2 separate regions of the Homo sapiens genome follow, and region 2 is reported to be linked to region 1. The links are microRNA targets in miRTarBase. Many come from high-throughput screens and were not tested one by one. Region 1 holds a microRNA gene; the other region holds the end of a gene's coding sequence.
What was found. The annotated mature microRNA hsa-miR-504-5p reads AGACCCUGGUCUGCACUCUAUC and lies in region 1 at 2,008-2,029, opposite strand. An mRNA with a match to its seed (bases 2 to 7 or 8) in the 3' UTR can be bound and repressed. Matches are read on the target gene's strand: a 7mer-m8 pairs with bases 2 to 8, a 7mer-A1 pairs with bases 2 to 7 and ends in A, and an 8mer does both.

Region 2: the mRNA of CLASP1 is a reported target of hsa-miR-504-5p. Seed matches in the 3' UTR shown: 7mer-m8 at 547-553.

Annotation. Positions count from the first base shown.
Region 1 is chrX:138,665,753-138,669,172 of GRCh38, forward strand. MIR504 (microRNA 504) reads right to left here and starts at 2,041; the gene lies at 1,959-2,041. The region is part of intron 3 of FGF13 (fibroblast growth factor 13); the gene reads right to left.
Region 2 is chr2:121,337,798-121,341,217 of GRCh38, forward strand. It overlaps CLASP1 (cytoplasmic linker associated protein 1), which reads right to left. Exons shown (of 41, transcript NM_001395891.1): 41 at 1-3,150. The coding sequence ends at 3,064. Among named protein-coding and RNA genes, the nearest start is that of TFCP2L1, 54 kb to the left of the region's middle.

The DNA of each region.
Region 1 (3,420 bases):
CCCTACCCTCATGTAAAACTAGTGACAAAAGTGTGTGCCTGACCACTTTTTAAAAGAGCACAAGGATAAGACAGGGCAGCAAAAGGTGCTATTTTAAAGTAAAAAAGAATAGCAATCTGCTATAAAGAGAAAAAAAAGAAAGCAGGGAGCAATAATGCCATCAACTAAATTAGGGCTGACACAGGGCTGGGAGGTACATAATCATCTGTTTCTCAGATACTCAGATGAGAAGTGAAACCATTCCCAGTGTTTTCAAAAATTTTAACATGTATGCTATCACTAAGATGTTTTCATAGGGAGTTTTTGTCCTATGATTTAATTCCCTGGCATTTACATTGTATTTCTTCAATTGTCTACATTTTGAAATCAAAATGTTCAAATGCTGAATGATGGTAGTCTAGACTCTCTAAACTGTCCAACAAAAGACATGGATTTTCTTCTTCCTGAGAAAAGTCTGAGTTGCTATATTATCTCATAAGCCTCATCAATAAGGATCCAATATCTGAGAGTTTTTTCTACATATAATACACTGTGTATTTGCATTCCTGAAAAGAAAAAAATGTGTTTTTATTGTTAAAATCTAGCCATATTCAGTTGTCAGCTAATGAGGAAATTCATGAGAAAGCTACATTCTCCTAAGGTATGATCCAAAAAGTACGTATGACAATAATTGAATAAGAGGTGCTAGAAAGAAGCACTTAAAGAAAGTGAAGTTGGGACATGGCAAAGTGTACTGGAAAGAGTATTGGTTAGGAGTCACAAGACTTGCTTTCTAATTCCAAATTCCAATGTTGTCAATTATTTATTAGCTACGTGTCTTTTGGAAAACCACTTCATCTTTCTGGACATAAGTTTCCTTATCTATAAGGACAGAATAATAAGCCCTTCTCTATCTCACAAGGTGTAGCAGGGATCAAATGAGGAAATAAAGATGAAAATACTATAAATTTTAAAGTGTTAGATATAGGTCTATTTCAATTATCATATATGAACAGAATACAGAAACATATACAACTTATAAATAAAAGATCATTATTCCATTTCCTAACACTTTTTTAAGAATTCAAGTGCCTGATCTAGACATAAAGGTTGTACACATTTAGGTGTGAACAGTTCCTTGTTCCCAAAAACAAAAACAAATAAACAGAGAACAAACTAAATAGATTATTACTATTCAACCACTAAAATGTAGATTAAGAATAATATTTTAATATATAGAGGAATAGTCATAATAACGAGTAAACAGCAGGTTTGAAACATGGTATGCATAGTTATTCCAAATGTACATATATATCTTTATGTAATATATATGTATTTTATATATGTACACATATATGTGTATACATATATTATGCTATATCATATATTAGGTTATATATGTATATTATGTATTTATACATATATATAAAATACGTATATATTACATGAAGATATATATGTATATTTGGAATATATGTATACATATATAATATACATATATATTACATAAAAATGTATATTTGGAATATATGTATATATATAGAGAGAGAGAGAGAAAGAAAGACAAAGACAGAGAGAGAGAGATATACACGAATTCCAGCTAGCCACTACAAGGATCTATAACAGAACATTAATATTGGTTTTCTCTTGGTTGGGGGACTTTGTAGATACCTTTTTGTATTTTCCAATTTTTCTGCAAAGAACATATATTACATTGGTAAACAGAAAATAAACATACACAAAATAACTGTTCAGAAAGAAAAGCTCAATTAGAAACTTAACATTCTTACTGAACCTGACTATAAGAGAGTTACAAAGACATTTCAATAACTACTAAAGAGACTTATCAGGATTGAGTTTCTTCATAGAAGAGGATCAGTTGAATTTTCATGAAGCATTGGGGTGGTGGGGTAAGATTCCAGGTGAAATGGCTTTGAAGTTGAGTTCCAGTCAACATTTGCCATACGGTGGTAGTCTGTGCCCTCTGTATGGGAAACCCTGCCCTGCACTCCCTTCAGTAAGAATACAGATAGAGTGCAGACCAGGGTCTCCCAACAGCAGCTGATTCAACATTCCACTCCATATTTTCTGTCTTCTGTTGTGATTCTATGTGGGAAATGGATGGCTCGTTGAGTTACCTTTTCCTTTTGAGTTATTCCACTTCAGTGATGGACACTAACTGATGAGGGTAGACTGTGGCCTTGTGGATCAGTTCGTCCCCTGTAAACAGCTGTACTTTTGGACTTTACATAAATTTTTCTTAGTCTTAAAAAAAATGACAATTTAATATATGATAGGATTTCCATAGTCTTCCAAGAATTATAGGCTTATATATATTGGCCTGAAGGCAGCATGTTATTATATGGACTGTAACGGCAAATAATATGAAGCATTTGTTAACTTAATGAACTTAACACTGTAAAATGCTGTGCATGTATTATCATTCCATTTAATCCTCTTAAGAACCCTATGAGGTCTATACTACTATTACCTCCATTTTATAGATGAGGAAACTAAAGGACAGATGGATTAATAATTCCTTTGCCCCAAATCATAAACCTTATAAGCATTTGAATTGTGTTTCAAATCCATGTAATGTCAGAGCCCTCCCTCTTAACCACTACAGGCATTTTAAAGGCAGATATTATGTATCATTTATTATGATGCTGCAGCCTGCTTAAAATCAGGATAGCAAAAGGTTGTTGCCACAGGGTAAAAAGGGGAAGAAGTGGGGGAGGGTAGTGTGTTCTATTTCAGAGATAGAGACAATGACTCCATTGTTGGTTATTTTGAGTTTAAAGAGCCATTAGTGATAGGTTAATGTGCAGCAGCCATTTGTATATATAAGCCTGGCTCTCAAGATGAAAGGTGTCTGCATATGGATGGTAACTGAAACCACAAGAATACATTTAATAATCTAGAGAACACAAGCAGAATACAAGACAACTACTGAGGCTGGAAACTGGGGGTGGGGAGGACATCAAACATTTCAGAAAAGACGAGGGAAGTGTAAAAATTAAAAGAAAAATAGTGATGGTGTAGAACAGAGAAAAAGCAGTGTTGTGAAAGCCCACAGAAGAGATGGTTTCAATGAAAAAGTTGACCAACCTGGTCAAGTGCTGTAGAAAGGAGAAATAAGGTAAGGACTGAAGGGAGAAATGGATTTTAGTTGGCAGTCACTAGCGACATTAGCAGGAGGAGTTCATGGATGGCAATGTGGGCAGAAGATAGAATGCGGAGGGCTGAATAATTAAGAATTAGATGAGAAAATAAAAGCAAAGGTGAAGCTGAATAATTTAAAAATAGGCGAGAAAATGAAGAAAGCTCTTGCCTATCAAAGGAAAGAGACAGTCTGAAAGAGAAACTTAGGAGGGACTTTTTAGGATGAGAAGTCTTGAAATGATCTGTATGCCAGTGGAAAAAAGGTAGTAGTCCAGGAGG
Region 2 (3,420 bases), not on the chromosome of region 1:
TAGGGCAAACTCAAAAGGGTTTTTTTTTTTTCTTTTTTAGCAAATCCTAGCACATTATTAACAAAAAAATCTGTACATTTGCCATGATACACTTGAAAGTGAAACAAATAAGATATAAATACAGATATGGATGTAACATGAAAAAGCCCCCCCCCCCAAAAAAACCCAAAAAACAAAAAAACCCACCCAACCTGGGGGTGTGGGGACCATGCGTGTGAACACAGTGCCAACATAACTATTTTGGTGGCTGATATTTTTTCAGAGCACTTCTTTATTTCCAAACATTATTGTTAGCAAAGTCCTGGTGGGATTCTACAAAGTTCTTATTTGCTGTCCTTTAAAGTGTAACATTACGCTTGATAAATAAAGGGTGGCAGGGAAAGAAAAAGACTGATGAGACAAAGTCAGTTGCATTACCTGCACAGGGTGGTAAGCTAGTGAGGCGCATAGAAAAGGCAGGCCCGTGGCATCGCCGCAGGTCCGGGAAGCACACACAGTGTACTTGAAGGAAGCTGCGTGCCCCGAGGACCGGCTGCACCCTGCCCAGACCCTGGCTGCAGGGGAGGCAGCAGCTTGGAGGAAGCAGGGAGTCAGCCCGCCCAGCCCCGCAGTGGAGCAGCGGGGGTCTTGGGCCCTGGCCAGTCCGGTAGACAGGGAGGCAGAGACAGGCTTAGGTGCTCTGCTCTTTTGTGTTCTGTTTTTCATTGGAACAGGGGCCCTGCAGGGAGGCGGCGGCAAGGCAAGGCAGCTGCAGCTGTCAGGGTCTAGGGGGCGACGGTGGGCTCGGCGCCCTCCCAGTGAGGTGGTGGCGGCATGCGAGTCTCCTCGGCGCGGCGGCAGCAGTTTTCAGATTGAGGCCAAGAGACCTGTGACGTGATTGTATCTCTAAGTCAGGAGACTGAAGACTGGGCGAGTGACATTCAAGGCTAGCCCTTTGTGAGTACTATGAGGACGTCCAGCAATGTTCGAGATCCTTTCTAAGTACACTGGGGACTGGGGTACCTTCTGGGAGTCAAAGAGCTCAAGGAGAAAGGTCTTTCTAACTGCATTAGGAATAAAGAAACTCATGGATAACCTAGCCCGACGCACATTCCTGCAACAAAGGGGTCAACAAGAGACTCCCTAATTCACTTGTAGAGTGTAAAAAAGAAATACCATTAATGACATATTAATAAACAAACAGTACTTATCAACAAAAGACCTGGTCCTGCTATATTTTGAGCCAAAGCTCGTCAGTAATACCCAACCCCTTGAAACGCGTCCCTCAAGTTCCCTAAACAGCAGCAGTGAGGTACCACACATGTGTAGGGTGCACGCACAAACACACACAACACCACACACACACACACACACACACACACACACACACACACGTCAGCACCCTGGCTTTACTGTTCCTATGCACTATGGGGCCTTCATTTTCAGCCCATGTTTCCAAATCAACATCAGTCTTTCCCAGCTTCCTGCATCCAATGCAGAGGGTCAGGGCAGAGGGGTCTGTGGAAATGATGTTAAGAATCACGTGCTCTGGCACCCAGCCTCTGCTTTCAGTCCTAGCAGTTGCAGTGGGCTCTGCACTGCAATAGCAAATACGTTATTAGAATTAATCTCAAAAGAAGCATTTTCCTTATGGAAAAATCAGTTCAATTTATAGGATCTAATACAACAGTAAGAGACAATAGAAGTCCTCATGATTGCATTAAGAATTTCCATTTGGCTTAAGAATTTTACTCAGAATTTATTTAACCAGACTCCAAACCTCTAGTTACTTTTATTGGAGTAATTAGGCTCTAAAGGTGTTTTTAAAAAGGGGGCCTAGTGGTTCGCTGAGGAGGAAGAGAGACTCTAAATGTGTGTTCTTTTTAAGTGTGTTTCTAATCCTGTTTTTCTGCAATCTGCTACACCTCATAATTACTTTTTTCCTTAAACAGTGACTATTTCATCAACAGACATTCAAGGAACTACTTCAGTTTATAAAATTAAAAAAAATTGTGATATCCAGTCTCTCTAGGCTTTTCTTGGCTCTTAATCCCACATTAAACTGAGAAGTCAGAACTAAGATGGTAAAGATGCCATTTACCAGATTAACTGAGACCATGTTAGAACTGAACGGCTTAGGCAGAACTTTGAGGGGAGGAAACAAGTTGGTGCTCAATCTGAATCACCGTGTAGCCCAGAGATGAGGGTCTTGGCAGAGCCCCCATGACAACAGTGTTCCCAAGGATCTCAGCAGTAAAGATGAAAGACTTCTTCTTTATCTTCTGTGCTTCATGAACTGCCATCTCAGGCATCCCTAAATGATGCCATACATTTATCTTATTTTTGTGTCCAGATTTAAACTTGAAGAATTCCTTTGCATGGAAGCTCTGGGGTAGGGACCTTGTCGGTGGAGTCGATTAGGGAGAGCTGGAAGGAGACTGTCAGGGTGCACTCCCAATTCTACGCTGAAAGCCAGGGCAGTCGGCCTCCAGTCTGGATATGACAAGCAAAATTCCCAGCGTTTGTTAAAAGGCCATCTTCAGACTGTTCTTGCCAAGACTTGATTCCCATTTTTAGTAGGTCTCAGAACACAACTTAAAGATATATCACCTTTCGTGGTGTCAGCTGTGAAAGGGGCCCCACACAGACCATACGCACAAGAAAATAGGCTAAGGAGGAAGAACACAAAGTAACACCCCACCCCACCCCCAAATATGTTATTAACTGAAAAAAAAAATGCTACTTTCTACCAAGTAGTGGCTAGAGCGCTCTGATTTTTAAAAACTGCACCCCACACACAGGGTTTCGCCATCTCAGCAGGCTGTACAAGACATGTTTCAGTATGGCTCTTTTCTGTTCTTATTCCTTTTGTTTTGTATGAAGACTGCAATACAGGCCTTGCTTCCTTTACATTCAATACCAGTAAGATTCTACAGAAAAGCTGGAAGGGACCAAAATACTGATTGTAATAAATATTTGTGGGCCTCCTTGTACTGACTGGGCAGCCGATGAAGGGGGTGGGGAAAGGTCTCTGAGAGGCACCACCGATTGCTTCTAGGTCTACACAAGAGACAGGTACTGCCATTAGCTGTGCGTGGAGACATCGGAGGAGGAGCTGCTGTTGCTGTTGGTGGTCTGGGCCCTCTTTATGTATAAGTTTAGTAGCTTCATCTGAAAAGAGAAGATGAAACTGAATTAGCAGGAAGAAAAGCAATCAGAAAGTAGAAAACAGCAAAAAGAATCCCAGGTGACAGTAAGGAAACAGCAAGTCCCTTAGTTCCCTTGGTTGAGGAATTCATTATAAAAACATGTTCTGAGTGCCTGCTGCCCATCCAATGCATCTGCCAGGTGCTAGGGCCACAGAGGGAGGGAGGAGGCCAGAGTCCAGAGGAGAGGGAAAAGCCGTGGGCAATTACAAGACCACCACCAGGTGTCACAACT